3 separate regions of the Homo sapiens genome follow, and regions 2 and 3 are each linked to region 1. Evidence: fine-mapped expression QTL. A gene starts in region 1. Each other region holds a variant in brackets. All regions are shown on one strand. Distances are between the middles of the regions. Region 1 holds the start of VPS37C (VPS37C subunit of ESCRT-I). Region 2 overlaps LOC124902678 (a long non-coding RNA gene). Region 3 overlaps LINC02954 (long intergenic non-protein coding RNA 2954).

Evidence for each region. PIP is the estimated chance that this variant, and not a neighbour inherited with it, causes the effect.
Region 2: its variant is fine-mapped to the expression of VPS37C in whole blood (TOPMed, PIP 0.96).
Region 3: its variant is fine-mapped to the expression of VPS37C in whole blood (INTERVAL, PIP 0.93).

The regions. Positions count from the first base shown.
Region 1 is chr11:61,158,699-61,164,844 of GRCh38, forward strand. It overlaps VPS37C (VPS37C subunit of ESCRT-I), which reads right to left and starts at 2,728. Exons shown (of 5, transcript NM_017966.5): 1 at 2,693-2,728. RefSeq lists enhancers at 2,191-2,784, 2,785-3,377, 3,118-3,167, 3,178-3,317 and a silencer at 2,368-3,127.
Region 2 is chr11:61,180,206-61,186,351 of GRCh38, forward strand. It overlaps LOC124902678 (a long non-coding RNA gene), which reads left to right. Exons shown (of 4, transcript XR_007062691.1): 2 at 2,898-2,965. Among named protein-coding and RNA genes, the nearest start is that of PGA3, 20 kb to the right of the region's middle. The variant C/T (reference allele first, on the strand shown) is at 3,858.
Region 3 is chr11:61,065,428-61,071,573 of GRCh38, forward strand. LINC02954 (long intergenic non-protein coding RNA 2954) reads left to right here. Exons shown (of 4, transcript NR_186234.1): 4 at 2,004-2,170. All of the region lies in intron 1 of LOC105369325 (a long non-coding RNA gene), which reads right to left. Among named protein-coding and RNA genes, the nearest start is that of LINC02954, 13 kb to the left of the region's middle. The variant C/A (reference allele first, on the strand shown) is at 3,249.

The DNA.
Region 1 (6,146 bases):
TGGGGAGACTCTCTCTCCTCTCCAGCCCATCCTAAGCCCCAGGGGTCCTACTTGTCAGCCCCAGCTAAATCAAGACAAACCTGTTTGATATTTGCTTAAGTCTTTCACATAAACCAGTAAAGGAAGATAAAGAGGTGAGATATGAATTGGAAGGAGCACCTACTAAGTAAACATGCCTTTACAGCTAGCAAAACCTCAGACAGTGCTGCCATTAGACACCTCTCTGTCATTCGGTAAGCACCTGGGAACAGACCAAAACCTTGTGGAAACGCCACATCCTTCAAGGACACTTCTAACAGAATTTCCACACAACAGAGATCCAGCTGGATTAAAAGAGCTAAATCCATTAAATCAGGTCTTGAGTGATCTAATTTTGTCAGCCTGGAAAACCCCTACTATTACTGGCCAAGAGTGTCCAGAAATGATTCATATGGCTAGTTAACCCAAAGGCTTTTTAAGGGCAAATTAACAAATTTCAAAGCAATAAACAAAAAGAAAACAAGAATCCTCAGGAATAATGTCACTTCCAAGCTACCAGTGGCCCAGCAAATCTACAAAGTTCTTAAAGGCAGTGTTTCCCAAACTTGCCTTACCGTAAGAATCACCCAGTGCATTTGTTAATAGATTTCTGGGCCCTCCTCCAGACAATAGCCCAAGAATCTCTAGAGGTGGAGCTCTGTATTTTTAACAAGCATCAGAAATTATTCTTAAGGTCCAGCACCTTTGGGAAACTAAACGGTCTGAGAGGCAGTATCACAGAGTTAAAAGCACATTAACTTCGAAATAAGACTGATGGGTTACAAATCTCACTTGTGGCCAGACGCAGTGGCTCACACCTGTAATCCTAGCACTTTGGGAGGCCAAAGCGGGTGGATCACCTGAGCTCAGGAGTTCGAGACCAGCCTGGCCAACATGGTGAAACCCCGTCTCTACTAAAAAATACAAAAATTGCTTGCAGTGAGCCGAGATCCCGCCACTGCACTCCAGCCTGGGCGACAGAGCGAGACTCCGTCTCAAAAAAAAATAAATAAATAAATAAATAAAAAATACAAAAATTAGCCGGGCGTGGTGGTGGGCACCTATAATCCCAGCTACTTGGGAGGCTGAGGCAGGAGAATCGCTTGAACCAGGGGGCGGAGGTTGCAGTGAGCTGAGATCACACCACTTCACTCCAGCCTGGGCGACAGATCAAGACTCCGTCTCAAAAAAAAAAAAAAAAAAAAAAAAAAATCCAAACTTGGCCACTTACTGGCTGTGTGACACTAGCCAGGTTATCTAACATCTCCGCAACTCACTTCATCTGTAAAACGGGATCATCACCTATTTGGACATGTTCGCAAAATTCGGTATGTTCAGAAAGCCCTAGAACAGTGCCCAGCATATGAAGCCAAGCAACAAATCACAGCTATTGCTACCTGCAAAACAGCGGCCAGAAACTGCTCAGAAAGTCTACAATGAAAATGTTCTACTTAATGGAAATTACAAAGGCACGGAACCACATTTCCAAGATAATCTAGGTAAAAGGCTTTTCTGGGCACTATGACCGCAAAGAACAAAGACTCAGTTTAGCGTCCAGTATTTTCATTGCAACAGTCCCCGATCCCACCCGGAACTACAGAGTTCAGGTGTCTGCAGGGTTGCAGCTTTGGACAACAAAGTAAGAGTCTTTCTTTCCCCAGTTCCTCGGTCACCACCACCTCCAGCTCTAAGGCCAAAAGTCACAGAACTGAGAGTCTGGTGGCAGCATCTTGGTGCATTAGTAGGAAATGGGACTCCTGGAGCCAATAAAGAGGGTGGAAAAGGCCTTAGGCAGCAAGAGAACTGAGGTACCGCTGGAGCGAAGGGAAATGAGTGGGAAGTTTCTGGAGCTGAAGACTGACATTCCCAGGGTAAGTGAGCCCAGACAAGGTGTAGCTGGGAAAGCACTGCCTCAGCTCAGCGACTAAAACCCCAGGTTGTAGAGTCCACTCTGCCAGTAACTCACAAAACACCTCCAGTTAACTCCTTCTCCCATCCGTAAAGTGGGAAATCGCCTCATCGGCTGAGGAGGAAATGAAGAGGAACCAGGCATATAATGGGTATGTATACATCAGTGCCCTTTGCGCCCAGAGGGTCCCGGGGTAAGAAATGTTCAGTGATGCTGGGAGGTCCAAGTCTGAGTCCTGAACAAAGCCAAAGCTGAAACTCCCATCTCTCAATGCCCTGGAGAAAGGGCACAAGCCAGTAAGTCACAGAGCAAAGTCCCTCCAACCTCCCCTCTGCCACTCGTCTCCCGCGTGCCCTCTGGCAAGTCGGACCCTACTCTTAGGCCTCAGCTTCCCCATCTATACAATGGGCTAATTGGCTCTAATGTCATCAGAATTGTGACCGCAAGATGCTCACATATGGGACGAGGGCCTGCAGAGACGCAGAAAGGAGGGTGGCGGTGAGTGGTGGGGCGGAACTGGAGGTGCGACCCGCCGGGGAGCCGGGGCGGCGCCTCGCGCTCTCCCTCCCTCCCTCCCACCGCGAGGGGCAGGGGCGCCGGCCCCCGGCGAGAGTCACGCGCCCCTCGTGCCCAATCACCGGCCTCTGCCAGGATGAGGCGGGCAGGCGGGGGCGCTCCGGGAGCCACGGCCGGCGCCGCCCCCACCGTCGTCCTCTGCCCCGCCCGCCTGCGGCAGAGCCGGGACCCTCCCCAGTCTCCGCTCACCTGCCAGGGCCGCCGTCGCCGCCGCCACCGCGGGTTAAACCGCAGCCGCGCCCACACTTCCGGGGTCCGCCAGGCCCGCCCCCTACCGGATGTGACCCCCTTGCAACGTCCGGCGCCCCAGTGGCGCGCGTGCTCGCCCCGCGACCCCGTTGGCCGCCCCGCCTCGCGCGCCTCTGAGTTACCACGACATCGTGCCACACACACACGCTCGCGGCCGCCCGGGCCACAACCACGGGAGCGCCCACGAGACCCCTCCAGCGCTCGCCGCACGCCTCGGCCCCGCCCCCGGTAAGAGGCCCCGCCCACTGGGCGGAGACCAGGCCGCTCTGGGCTAGTGCGCCGGCGCGGACGTCCGCCGCCTTCCGAGTGGCCAGCGAGGACTCGCTCTGTACACAGCTCGATCTTGGGAGGCTTCTCAGAGGGACCCAAAAGGAGGGGGAAGCAGATGGAAGCCCAGAACCTAGGAGGAGCCCCAGATGGGCTGAGCTCAGACTGAGGAGCCCCAAGGCCACCACACACTCATTTCCATTTACTAGTTAATCTCTTTCCCCCACCCATTCATTCTACAGAATTACCAGTATTCCCCATCTCCTCCCTTCCCCCCTGGAAACAGGAGAGTCCAGCATAATAAGGAAGCCCCCTCTGCTCTAACCCTTAAAAAAAGGAATCTGAAGTGACCTGATGTTAACTAATCAGGTGTTTTTTTTTTTTTTTCTATTCTGTTCCCTTTCCCACCTATGAAACCCACTGCTCTGCTATTTCCCAGGGGAATTTGAGACCAAATAAGTCTATTTACAATGGTAACTGATGTCAATGTCTAAAGTTTCCAACCTCTCAAAATCAAGAGGTTGACCAAAAGGGGAGAAGTGTCCAGTTTAGCCTAAAGTTGTCTCCTGGCGTATCTTAAGTTTGTCCTAAAGGTTTCTCCGTACATAGTGAACTGGATCCTACTCATACCAATCACAGAGTTTCAGCCAATCACAGGCAGCCACCTGTTCAAACCTTGTTCCAATAAGGCAAATGTCAATCTGTCATTGGTAGGGAACCAAACTGGATCCCTTTGCCCTCAGAAAGCCAAACACCGAAGTATCAGGTTTTTGTAGAGGGAAAGATTTGTTGCAAGTCAACTGGGAAGGAGACATGCTCAAATCTGTCTCCCCAAGCCAGGGGCTGTGACAGGTGTTATAGGCAGAGGGTAATGAGCAGTGATCTGATTGAATCTTGCAATAAGCAATGATCTGACTGGATCTTGCCATGGGATGATGCCATGGCTCAATCTGATTAGATCATGGCTTATACCATGTATCTACTTCTTAATTCTGTTCCGGTTCTTTGGTCTGAGCATTTAGGTTGCGCCTGTGGTTGCATGCTTGGTTCTTCTGGGCACGCTCAGGTTACATAACTTGCAACCTGGGATCATGGCAACTGAAAAAACAACTCACCACTTTATTACACAAAGTTGAACCAGATGGGGCTGGTTCTGCGCTTACATAACTGGTCCAACTGTTTCTGTACCTCGCTTCTGTTTTCTGGACATCTATTTCCTTTTTCTTTTCTTATTTTTAAATTTTAATGATTATTTTTTAATAGAAATGGAGATTCGCTATGTTGCCCAGGCTGGTCTGGAACTCCTGGACTCAAGCAATCCTCCAGCCTCGGCTTCCCAAAGTGTTGGAATTACAGGCATGAGCCACCACGCCCAACCTGCTTTCCGTTTTCTATCCCTAAATGTTATCCAACCACCTGGCAGCCTCAGAGTCACTCTGAACCTATTCTGGTTCTGGGGGCTGACTGATTCACAAATCATTATTTGCTCAATTAAACTCTGTCAAACTGAATTTGTCAAAACTCCTTCTTATAACAGAAGGGGTCCATGAAGAAGGTCAGCTGCTGACCCTTCTGAGACACTGGTGACTCCTTTGAGCGGGGGCATGTTGGTTTTGCAAACATTTCACTTGGTACAGAATGTCAGAGTGACTCCCATTGACAGCACCTGTTTGAAAGCTAGGTTGAAATTGTTTCTGAGGGTTAGGGAGGGCCAGGGCAGATGACCTTAATTTTTTGTCATAAGCCTTTTTGTGCTATGTGATTTTTTTTTTTTTTTGAGACGGAGTTTCTCTCTTGTTGCCCAGGCTGGAGTGCAATGGTGTGATCTCTGCTCACTGCAACCTCCGCCTCCTGGGTTCAGGTGATTGTCCTGCCTGAGCGTCCCAAGTAGCTGGGATTACAGGCGCCTACCACCACACCCGGCTAGTCTTTGTATTTTTAGTAGAGACAGGGTTTCACCATGTTGCCAGGCTGATCTCGAACTCCTGACCTCAGGTGATCCACCCACCTCGGCCTCCCAAAGTGCTGAGATTACAGGCGTGAGCCACCACGCCCAGCTGCTATGTGATTTTTAACTCTGCATGTGTTTCATTTCTGAAGGAAAATAATTAGGAAACACTATTGATGGATTAGCTTGAGTTTATATCCAGCAATCTCTTCACTGATTAGTACCATGTTGGAAGGTGGGACATGGACATGATGGCTGGAGCAAGTGTAGTCATCTTGAACCATGAGGCGACCATAGGAATAGAGGCCACACTAGTGGCACAACAAAATAGAAGGAACCTGAGCCCTGATTCCGTAAAGGACCATGACACCACTGGACGGCTGCCTCTGGGCTCTGTGTGAGAGGGAAATAAACCACCTCGTGTCACTGTTGTTTTGGATTTTCTGTCACTTGTGCCCTTTAAGTCTTAGACTCTACTTCTGGAAAGCCCCTATATCCTAAGACTGGGTAACTTCCCCCCTTGTATGTTATTCAAACACCCCACCCTTCAGCCCTTTCTTAGCATTCTCTACACTTTTCTGTAGTTGACCTTTCACTCCCCCTAGATAGTAACTTCTCTAAGGACAGGCAGAGACTCTATTTTATACATCATTTTATGCAGATGCTGGAAACTGCTAACGCTAAAAAAAAAAAAAAAAAAGAAGAAGAAGAACTTGTGAATGTGACAGACACGATGATTCTACCAAGGGTGTTGAGGGGAAATGACACACTGCTGCCTACGCTCTCTCTCCGTGTCCTAAGTCGTTGCCACATTATCTTCTGGGGCCACAGGGTGCTGGCCCTCCTGAATAACCAAAGATAGAGAATTAGGACGAAGGAGGGAGGAAGAGAAAATTGCAGGAAATTCAAGTCATGGGAGGGAAGTGGCATTGGGAAAAAGGGTGCTCTTTCTATTTGGTTCCTGCTATTTTCGACTTTGGGCCTTTTGCAACTTCCCTTGGCTCTAGCCCCTCCTCCAGTCCTGGTCTCTTATCACACATACACCTATGTTCCCACGTTCTATACCTCAATTACACCCAATTTCATTCATAAGTGGAGTGGCCCTGATTAATGCAAAATTTTTAAGAAGTTATAAACACAAACAACCCCAGTTACAGAAGGGGGTACCTTACTCTGTTT
Region 2 (6,146 bases), 22 kb after region 1:
GTCTTGCTCTCTCACCCAGGCTGGAGTGCAATGGCATGACTGATCTCAGCTCACGGCAACCTCCACCTCCCGAGTTCAAGCAATTCTTGTGCCTCAGTCTCCCAAGTAGTAGAGATGGGGTTTTGCCATGTCGGCCAGATTGGTCTTGAACTCCTGGCCTCATGTGATCCACCGCCTCGGCCTCCCAAAGTGCTGGGACTATAGGCGTGAGCCACTGTGCCCAGCACCCCCAGTAGCATTTACTGAAGAGACTGTCCTTTCCCCATTGTATGTTCTTGGTGCCTTTGTTGAAAATGAGTTGGCTAAGAAGCCCATCTTAAAAGGCCATATACTGTATGATTTCAACTATATGACATTCTGGAAAAGACAAAACTATGGAGACAGTAAAACAATCAGTGGTAACCAGGGGCTGGTGGGAGGGAAGGATGAATAGGCAGAGCACAGAGTAGTGAAGCTGTTCTTTATTTTGTGTGCATGTGTGTGTATGAGATGGAGTTTTACTCTTGTTGCCCAGGCTGGAGTGCAATGGCGCAGTCTTGGCTCACTGCAACCTCTGCCTCTCCAGTTCAAGCGATTCTCATGCCTCAGCCTCCCGAGTAGCTGAGATTACAGGCATCCACCACCATGCATGGCTAATTTTTGTATTTTTAGGAGAGATGCGGTTTCACCATGTTGGTCAGGCTGGTCTTGAACTCCTGACCTCAGGTGATCCACCTGCCTCGGCCTCCCAAAGTGCTGGGATTACAGGCATGAGCCACCATGCCCGGCCTTCTGTATAATATCATAATGGTGGGTACCTATCACACATTTGTCCAAACCCATAGAATGTTCAATGCCAAGAGTGAATCTTAACGTAAACCATGGACTTGGGGTAATAATGAAGCATCATCGTAGGTTAATCAATTGTAACAAATGTACCACTCTGGGGCAAGATATTAATAATGGAGAGGCTGTGCATGTGAGGTGGGGTGGCATGGATATATGGGAAATCTCTGTACCTTCTGCTCAATTTTGCAGTGAAGCTAAAACTGCTCTAAAAAGTAAAGTCTGTTTTTTTAAGTAGGGGGAGCATGGAGAGGTCATTTGTCCTACAGGATGTCCCACGTATGGGATTTGAATGATTGTTTTTTTGTTCCTTTACCTACATTATTTCCTATGCCTGGTCATGAGATCTAGACTTGAATTCAAAATTTTAATTAAAATACTTCTTAGGTAGTTCCATATATTCCCTATTGTATCACATAAAGAAGCACATAATTTCTGACTGTCTCACTCTTACAGATGCTAGATTAATCCGCGGGTCCTGGTGTTATCAACCTAATCCATCCAATCCTGAACTTACCCTTCAACCTTCCACCTTACGGTTTTGGCATCTGTTGATGATTTTTGCCCTAGATCCATTGTTTCATTAGAAGTTGCAAAACAATGAGTTCCAAATTCTACCATTCCTTCTGAATTTAATCATTGGAATTTATTATTTATTTATTTATTTATTTATTTATTTATTTTGAGACAGGGCCTCGCTCTGTCACACAGGCTGAAGAGCAGTGGCACCATCATAGCTCACTGCATCCTCAACCTCCCAGGTTCAAGCCATCCTCTTGTCTTGACTTCCCAAAGTGTTGGGATTACAGGTGTAAGTCATCATGCCTGGCCAGGATTATTGGGTTTTTAATAAAAGAGGAGACTCTGTTAACCTTGTAACCTTTGCAGAGAGGCAGAGAGGAACCAGTTAGAGCAAGAGTTGCCATCGCTATAGGTCCCCCTTGCTTTTTTTTTTTTTTTTTTTTTTTTTTTTTTTGAGAAAAAGTCTTGCTCTGTCACCCAGGCTGGAATGCAATGGCACAATCTTGGCTCACTGTAACCTCTGCCTCCCGGCCTCAAGCGATTCTCCAGCCTCAGCCTCCTGAGTAGCTGGGATCACTGGCATGCGCCACCATGCCCAGCTAATTTTTATATTTTTAGTAGAGACAGGGTTTTGCCATATTGGCCATGCTGGTCTCGAACTCCTGGCCTCAAGTGATTCACCCACTTCAGCCTTCCAAAGTGCTGGGATTACAGGTGTGAGCCGCCACACGCAGCCAGGAATTTTTTAATAAAACAACTTTTTTTCCTTATTCCTTAAACTGATGTTTGAAAAAAAACTTTTTAGTCAACTATTTGTGATTACCCAAAATATAGTTCATATAGAAAAAATTAACATAAGTATTGATTATAGTTTCCCTACGTCTACTAATAAGCTGATGTCCTGTGATATCCCATGTTGACAAATTTGGGCAGTAGGGGTAAAACTGACACAGAACCCCAGCCAGGCGCTGTGGCTTATCCCTGTAATCTCAGCACTTTGGGAGGCCAAGGCAGGAGGATAACTTGAGCCCAGTTCAAGACCAGGCTGAACAACATGGCAAAAGCCTGTCTCTACAAAAGAAAATGCAAAAATTAGCTGGGCATGGTGGCGCATGCCTGTAGTCCCAGTTACGAGGAAGGTTGAGGTGGGAGGACTGCTTGAGCCAGGGAGGCAGAGGTTGCAGTGAGCAGAGATTGATTGTGCCACTTCACTCCAGCCTGAGTGACAGAGGTAGACCCTGTGTCAGAAAAAAAAAAAAAAAAGATACAGAGCCCCCAAGTCACTTGCAACCCAACCCTGGGGATCAGATCAGCCTTGGCATTGCTCTACCCAAGATGGGCACAGACTGGATCTGGATCTTGTATGGGAACATGAGGGCCCTGGAAGTCCCAGAAGGAGCCACACCATTCCATTTTCTTTCCTTCGCCTGGAATAATGCCAGTTTAAGAAGGTAGCTCTTCTCATCTCAGGCAAGCAGAAGCTCCTAGTGGTTCTTTTTTTGTCTCTTTTGATTAGCAATACACTTTAATTATTTCTTTTTATTTGGCAGACAAAATGTTTCCAGCCTGGATCCTATCAGGGGAATTACAGCGGGTGCTCATCAAGTGGGAGTTCTCAGTAAGTCAGTTGGTTTATCTGACCCTGGTAGTCTTTCTTTACAAGTGGAAGGAAAATCAATGCATTCCATGTGTTATTCATTCAACAAACATGAATTGAACACCCTCCCTTTCTACCCCTTTTCTACTCTCCCTTTCTAGCCCTCTACACCCTCCCTTTCTAGCCCCCTTTCTACTCCCAACTCTAGGCCAGAAATAAAAACCTACACATCCCACAGTTGCTTAAGTTTTGGCCCACACTATGTTTCTTGAAAAACAAATTAATTAGCTGCTAACAGCTAAAGATCAGGGATTTCACATAAATATCCAGACTTTTGACTTTTTATTTTATGTGTATATATATAAAATGTGTGTTTATATATATGTATATGTATAAACACACATCAGTTTTCATCCACAGTTCCTGGCTCATAACCCGCATAGCCCTTGTTACTGTCTTTTGTTATGAGGTTGGAGTGTGTTAGGCTTCTAACCAGGCCCCAGAAAACAGAATCTTTCTCCCTGACCTCCTTCGGCCTTCTTTTCACCTGCTCCTTTTTCTCTCTAAGGCAGGCCTTAGCACCTAAAAATATATTCTAATCTTCCCCTGCCTCTGTTCATAAAGAAATTCTCTGACTGGCCGACTGCAGGTCATAAAACTCCACTTCAGAGGAGTCCTGCCCCATACCCTGGAGGAAGGAATGCTGCACAGAGAGACCAAGAAGAATCTCAACAGACGGGCATTTCTGGGCTTCTCCACTCAGTCTATCAACACTAGATCATTCCCTTTTTGTTCAATCACACTTTTTTTTTTTTGAGATAGAGTCTTGCCCAGGCTGGAGTGCAATGGCGTGATCTCAGCTCACTGCAACCTCCACCTCCCAGATTCAAGTGATTCCCCTGCCTCAGCCTCC[C/T]GAGTAACTGGGATTTCAGGTGTGCACTACCACGCCTGGCTAATTTTTGTATTATTGAGAGGTGACAGCGTGCTGGTCAGGGTTTGCACCCTTAAATGTCTGTCTTTGTCTTCAGGGAGCCAGGGGAAGATTTCCACGCCACAGGCTGGAGCTGGTGTCTATTAATGATTCAAACTTTTTTTTTAAAGACTCATCAAGTGCAGCGGTGAGAGGGAGGGAGTTAAACTCTTTTGGAGGCAGGGCTCATGCCTGTAATCCCAGCACTGTTGGAGGTCAAGGCAGGCGAATCACTTGAGGCCAGGAGTTCGAGACCAGCCTGACCAACACATTGAAACCCAGTCCCTACTAAATATACAAAAAATCAGCTGGGCATGGTAGTGCACACCTGTAATCCAGCTACTTGGGAGGCTGAGGCATGAGAGTCACTTGAACCCAGAAGGCGGAGGTTGCAGTAAGCCGAGATCCCACCATGGCCCTCTAGACCGGGAGACAGAGTGAGACCCTGTCTCAAAAAATAATAATAATAAAATAAATAAATAAATAAATAAAACTCTTTTTGAGGTTCTATATTTGTAACCTGTGCCCACAGCATGAGGATGAATTCTGATCTTCAAGGCAAAACCCTGGCCAGGCATGGTGGTGCATGCCTGTATTTGGGGAGGCGGAGGTGGGAGGGATCCTAGCATTTGGGGAGGCGGAGGTGGGAGGGATCGCTTGAGCCCAGGAGATTGAGGCTGCAGTGAGCTGTGATCATGCCACTGCACTCCAGCTTGGGCAACACAGCAAGACCCTGTCTCTAAGAAAAATAAAATAAAATAAATGTAAATAACAAAGCAGAATTCTGCCCCCTCCACTTTTATCCTTTACCAACTGCAGACCAAAGAGATTCATAAACTTTGTTGAGAGAGAATGTGGAGAAAAAGATGGTTCTTATCAAAATTAAAAATGTCTCTCTTTAAAACGTTTTTGGATTGTAGGATCTCTGTGTTGTATGGAAGCTCGAAAAGATAACTGAGTATATCATTCCCAATTCCGGTTTTGCATCAGAGTCCTTAAGCTTGGGAGGCTTTTTATTATTCATGAACATTGCCTGGGATTCATTTCTAATCTTCTGAAAAGAATCTCAGCCTATTCTTCTCATTATTTTTATGCTGTTTCTTAAGAAGTGAGAAGAAATTACAGCGAGTGACTATAACGTCTATCAGTAGATTGTGTTGAGTAAACGTCCTTAGTTCTAGGTGGTGTCATTAGCCTACAGTTTATAATTTGGGGAAAGTGAAAAAAGCATTAAAGCATATTAAGAAATAAAACACTTTTTTTTTAAAAGACAGCTTTTGGACACTTCTTGTGAGTGTAAATTGATACAGCCTTTTTGGAGTTGATTTGTTCTTAAAATGTGTATGGCCAGGCCGGGCGCGGTGGCTCACGCCTGTAATCCCAGCACTTTGGGAGGCCAAAGCGGGTGGATCACCTGAGGTGGGGAGTTCAAGACCAGCCTGACCAACGTCAAGAAACCCCATCTCTACTAAAAATACAAAATTAGCCAGGCCTGGGTGGTGCATGCCTGTAATCTCAGCTACTCGGGAGGCTGAGGCAGGAGAATCGCTTGAACCCAGGAGGCGGAGGTTGTGGTGAGCCGAGGTCGCACCGCTGCACTCCAGCCTGGGCAACAAGAACAAAACTCCGTCTCAAAAAAATAAAAAAAATAAAAAGTGTGGTCTTTGTCCCAGCAATTTTGCTTTCAGGATTTAGGCTAACTCAATGGTCAGAAATGCCCAGAAACATATATGAGCAGGGATGTAATCTTCAGAGTCTCTTACACAAGGGAAAATCCGGAGCCTCCCAGTGTCTGTTAAGCAGAGTGCCCCAGCATAGGTAGACAATCATGCAGCCATCTTTTTGGTTTTTTATCTTTTTTGTTTCTTCTTTTCTTTAAAAAAAAATTTTTTTTTTTTTTAGAGTAACAGGGTCTCAATATGTTGCCAAGGCTGGTCTCAAACTCCTGAGCTCAAGTTATCCTCCTGCCTTGGCCTCCGAAAGTGCTGGGATTACAGGCGTGAGCCACTACACCCGGCCTTTTTTTTATTCTTTTATTTATGTTTTTATTTTTTTGAGACAGGGTCTCACTCCGTTGCCCAGGCTGAAACGCAGTGGCATGATTACAGCTCACTGCAGCATCAATCTCCTGGGTTCAAGCAGTTCTATCTCACCCTCCGGAGTAGCTGGGCCTACAGGCACGTGCCACCACGTCTGGCTAATTTTTTTGTGATTTTTTTTGTAGAAACGATG
Region 3 (6,146 bases), 93 kb before region 1:
GTAATCCCAGCACTTTGGGAGGCCAAAGCGGGCGGATCACCTGAGGTCAGGAGTTCAACACCAGCCTAGCCAACATGCAGCCTGGCCGTCTCAACTGAAAATACAAAAAGTAGCTGGGCATGATGGCTGGCGTCTGTAATCCCAGCTACTCGGGAGGCTGAGGCCGGAGAATCCCTTGAACCCAGGAGGCAGAGGTTGCAGTGAGCTGAGATCACGCCACTGCACTCCAGTCTGGCGACAAGAGTGAGATTCCATCTCAAAACAAAACAAAACAAAAAGAAAAGAAAAAAGAAATATACTGACACTAACGATGGCTGATAAGCTAAAAATTCACACACACAAAAATCTCGTAATGTTTTAAGAAAGTTTACAAATTTGTGTTGGGCCACACTCAAAGCCGTCCTGGGATGCGGGTTGGACAAACTTGACCTAGACATTCTGCCTCTCTTCACTTGGGCCCCCCCAGATGTCTGGCCTGCGTAGACCAGCCTCAGTGCACGCAGCTGGAAGGTGCAGTGCCTGTCGGAGGCACCCGTTTCCCCACCAAGGGCCTCATGTTCGCATGCCCACTCCACGTTCACTCCATCATCCATCTCACTCCGTTTTCTATTGAAAGCACCCTGTCACCTTTCGCGTTTCCAACTCAGGAAACAGCAACCACGGAACAGAAGAAAAATCAAGATCCCATTTGCCTTGATGGATTCATTTCGATACAACTTCACTCAAGAGCTCGCCGCTTCCTGATTTCACATTTCACCATCAAAGACGAGGGCCGGGGCAGAGCTGGGGGATGTGGCCCAATCGGCAACATGCGTGGCTGAGCAACAGGTTTCTGCCAGGAGAGGCAACTCTGGGACCGCAGCTTCGGGATCCATTGGCCCATCCCAACAGCTAACAGAGGCAGAACATTCTGGAACATCACCCACCTGTCCCATCCTACAGGCTCCCAAGCCAACTGTGGCAAAGGTGAACCAAAGCCCTGAAAGAACTCGAAGTGAGACAAAGCCAGGCTCTCTGTGCTGAGGGAAGCAAGGCCCAGAGAGGGCAGTGGTGTGGCCACTGTCACACAGCGGGGCTCTGGGTCCAGTCCCTCTCTCTGATTTGGGCACCTCCCCCCTGCAGCAAGCATTGATGACTTCAGGTTACACGATACAGGAATGTCTCCATCCCTTTCCCCAAGGTAAGGAAAGGGCTCACATCAGTTAATTGCTCAAGCAACCCCAGAACCAGGATTATAACAAGGTGGTGCTCTGCCACGGGGCTGATAGAGAGGACAGGCCCTGGCCAGAGCAGGGGTGGGGCAGGGACTGCGGACCAGAGGTCCTCCCCAGAGCTTTTCATGAGCAACTACTAGGCCCTCGATAGAGAAGCCCAGCATGACCGAGAGGCAGTCTATGAATATGGTGACAATGCCACACTGTGAGGATAGAACCCAGCCCCGGCTAAAGCCCACTGAAAGTAAGAGCAATAATGCAATTCATTCATTCATTCATTCATTCATTCATTCGACAAAGTCCGTGCCAGGCTCTGTGGCTACAATCCTGAAAAAGACACAGTATCTACGTCTTCAGGTTGCTTAAGTAAAATCATTAGCACTAAAAAAATGTGGTATTCATACAATAAAGCACAACACAGCAACTAAAAAGCAGGAACTCCTGCTACACTCAAACACGGATGAATTTCATGGGTATAATGAGGAGCTGAAGAGGCCAGGCACAGAAGAGTCCATACGCTGCAATTCAAAACACTACTTACGGAAAGCTGGAGAACAGACCCATAGTGAGAGACCAGAACAGTGCTTAGCTCTTGGTGGGAGGGGGCGGCTGATAGGAGAGGCTCTAGGGAACCTTAATGGGGGATGAAAATGTTCTAGATCTTGAGCTGGGTGGAGGTTACACGGTGTATGTGTGTGTGGGTGTGTGGGCGTGTGTGTGCATGCAATATATATAAAAAAAGTTTTACATTTTTAAAAATCATTAACAGTGTTTACACTTCTTTTTCAGAGCTAACCTTACATATGCTTGATCAAATGACGAAAAGCTTCAGCCAGAAACAGTTTTGCCTGGGTTCTGAATCTTCCCTGAGCTCTTAAATTCTACCCAGTGAGCATCTAGGTTAAAACCTGGATAAAACCTGGATAAAAGATTAAAAAACTCAACCAAGTTTCCAAGTTCTTGTACTGCTTGGCTCTGTGTAGATCCGAGTTAACAAACAGGTTTCAATCCACATACCAGATCTGATGGTATGAAGCACTGATTATGGCTGGGCACAGTGGCTCATGCCTATAATCCCAACACTTTGGGAGGCCCAGGCAGGAGGATAGCTTGAAATAGGAGACTGGGGCCCTTGCAAACCCACTGAACTTCCTGGTGGTCACAGTGGACAGTCAGCCTGGGGAATAAGTCTCTCTGTGAAAAATGCAATGAACACAAGGCCCCTTTCCATGGCCTGTGCTTGGAACCAGCAAAGGAGTCGGCCATTCTGCATCCTGAGCACAGACAGAGGAGCTGTGGGTGACAGATGGTGCCTGCCAGGAGCAGGGATGCATGAGTCTCAGGTCAATGACAGATGTGGCTGGAGCCCAGTGTGGAGGCCCCAGGCTCCAGCGTGACCTAGTTTTCGAGATTGATGGGGCTGGCGTTGATGGCCTCCCGTGCACTCTCCTCTGTTCAGTGGGGGGCAGAGAGAACCCAAAACAGCAACGCCCTCCCCCAGCCCACACTTAGACAACAGGTGACTACGAAAGGAAGGCAGGAGGGGAGGTGGGGAGGGGAATGGCAGGCGGGCCAAGTTGGGTGGGCTCCGGGGCAGATATGTCTGCCTCTCTTCTCTGAGGCACGACTGAGGGGCAGAGAAAGGCCAGGCAGTGGCAGTGACTTCACGTGCGCTGCTGCCAACGACCCCCATCCCTCCCAATCCACCGTGGTAACACCAATATGTTCCCAGCTTGGATCTCTCTCTCTCTCTCTTTCTCCCCACCCACCTTGGGCCCCAGACTCATACCCAGCCCTGTCTGCTCAGCATCTCCACTTGGGTGTCCGAGAGCATCTCAAGTGTCATATGGCCAAAAGCAAACTCCTGACCATCCCTATCTCAAGACAGGGCTTCTCCATCCTTCCAGGTGCTCTGGCCAAAAACTGTGGTGTCACCTGTGACTCCTCTTTCTCTCACATCCCAGCTGCAATCCAGCCAGAAATCCTATGGGTTCTGCCTTCGAGATGTAGTCAGACTCTGGCCACCTCCCACCC[C/A]CTCCACTGCGACCGCCCTGATCCTGGCCACCGTCCTCTCTGCCTCCTCACCTGCCTTCCTGCTTCCTGCCCTCATTCCCTTCCGGGTGTTCTCCCTGCTGGATGTGGAGTGATCCCATGTAAAAGGCACCCATGACGTCTCCCACCTCACAGCCTACTGCTCTACCTGCTCACACCACTTGGGTCACGCTGGCCATCGGACACACTGGACAGCCTCAGGGCCTTTGCTGGTCCTGGGCTGGAAGGCTCTTCCCCTGGAGAGCCCTCAACTCCCTTCCTCGCCTTGGGTGGAGCCTTCCTGGACAGCCCTATTTAAATCGCCACCCCTCCCTCCCCCTTCCCCCTTCTCTTCTCCTGTTTTAGTCTCTTCCGTAGCATTTATTGCCACTGGACACACAATATATTTTTACTTATTTATTTTGTTCATTGTCAGTTGCCCCAGGTTAGACTGTAAGGAGCATGAGGGCAGGAAAGTTTGGGGTCTGTTTTGTTCTTGCCATGTCTCCCAACACCAAGGACAGTGCCTCGTGCATAGCAGGCACCTAGTAAGTTATTGAATAAGTGAATGAATCAGGATCAGTGACCTCCCTCTGGAACCACAGGCTTGACAGCAAAGCTCTCCCCCTTTCTTCTGGCCCCTCAGTGCCCCCCTCAGGGCAGAACTCCAGGTACCCAGTGTGTCTCCAGCAGGTCCCTGTGTCCCCTTAGTGGTGGGAACAAGAGATCCATCAGTTCCAAGCCTCAAGATGCCTCTTGCCTCCTTCATCATCTGTCTCCCTCACATCTGCCCTGCCTTTGACAATGTACAAATAGCTTTGAAGCCCTGTAAGGTTTCAGCATCCTTGTTGCGTAGGCTGGGAGAGCCAGGCAACAGCCCAAAGACACACAGCTTAGAAGGGAGGAGAACACCCATCCTGACAGCAAGCTTGGTCATTGCTCAGATTCACCCTGTCCCTACCACCTGCTTCCTCCAGGCCAGCACTGCAAGCCAATCGTGATGACAACGACGGTGCTGGATGGAGGACAGACAAAACCAGTGAGGCTCTTGCAACAGGGGAAAATGAGTCCACCAGCAACAAGAAGACTGGGACTGGGGAGGGGGTGCAGAAGGGATTAAAGGGTTCAAGGGGGCCTGGGAGGACAGAAGGGGATTCTGTTTGGGTTCCCCTCAACCAACCTAAAGCAGATTCTGCTGAAAACACAGGAGGCAATAATACCCTGAGCTTTTTAAGTGCATGTCCCCATGACCCCATAGCCCTACACCTAGAGGTTTATTGCAAAGCCATCAGGGAAAGAGTGTACACAGAACAGTGAGGGTTAGCTATACGGGGTGCTTGGCAGAGCAGTGCTGGTGAGAGGAGGACAATGGAAACCTTCTCAGTGTCCCCAGATAGGGGAATGGGATTTATACGCCATGACTCCCTTGAAAACAATGAATGTGCACCTACATTTCCTAACTCGGAAAGCCGGCAATGACATTGAGCCTAAAATTCTGTGTTGTATGGGCCCATTCGTGTGTGTGTGTTTTTTTTAAATGTACGTGTTTGCAAAGAAAAGTGTCTAGGGCCAGGCGTGGTGGCTCACACCTGTAATCCCAGCACTTTGGGAGGCCGAGGTGGGTGGATCACAGGGTCAGGAGATTGAGACCATCCTGGCTAACACGGTGAAACCCCATCTCTACTAAAAAATACAAAAAATTAGCTGAGTGTGGTGGCGGGCACCTGTAGTCCCAGCTACTAGGGAGGCTGAGGCAGGAGAATGGCATGAACCCGAGAGGCGGAGCTTGCGGTGAGCCAAGATCGCACCATTGCACTCCAGCCTGGGCAACAGAGCAAGACTCCATCTCAAAGAAAAAAAAAGTGTCTAGGAGGAAGTATATCAGGTGCAGTAATGGTGACTGCTGCTAGTGAGCCTAGAGGGAGCTCACTCTCTTTTTCATTCTTTTCTGTATTCTATTGCTGTGGGATAATTAAGGAATCAGAGAGACTGAGGGGTTGAGGAAGAATTATGTAATTATTTAGGTGCACCAAACCAGTCGGATTAACATCCAAAGGACTGAGCCCCAAACAAAGAGTCCGGTTACCTTTTAAGCATTTTGTTGGGCGGGGGCGGGGGGGGTAATCTGTGCAGAGGGAAGCATATTACAGAAGTGAGAAACAAAGACAGTTATTCAACTGAGACATGCATTACATCATTTCTTACTTTTTAAGGAACAACATGTTTTACGACTTGAGATTATCTGTCAAGTGACCTTGAAGCTGCACAGCTAGAGAAACAGAGTCTTCACAATGCCTGGGAAAGGGAGAGATAAGTCTCACTGGCCACAGAAAGAAAAACAGGCAGTTAATTTTAAAGGACTCCAGCCCTTTCTCTTCCTCAAGGGGAACTGGGTTTTCTTACATTCAGCTGAGTTTTTGATTACACAGTTTTTAATTTCTTTTCATTCCTGTTCCACTATGAATAATTTTACGACTAGCATATATCAATATTTTTAGTAAATAAAACAGTAAAGGTGCATGCATTTTAGAAAAACAAATTTAAATGCTCCAGAGACTTCCCCGATGGGCCAAGCCCACCAGGGCCCTCTCTCCAGCCAGACCCAGCACCTGCCCACTGAAGGCAGCCTCTAAGCCTCCGAAGCTGAGGGCCTGACACCTCCATCCAAGCCTCTGTGTGTGACTGAGGGGGGAGAAACAGAGAGAAAAGAACCACTTCCTGCAGAGCTGGTGGTGGTGGCGGCTCTGAGGGAGGAGAGACACCCACCAGAGGTGAGGACTAGAGGCTCCTTCAGCAAATGTGAACGTGACTCAGGGGGCCACCCTGACTGACAGGGCAGTGTGGCCCTCACGGTGACCAGGGCTCAGCCGCACTGTCACTGCCATTAACCAAAAGCCGGTG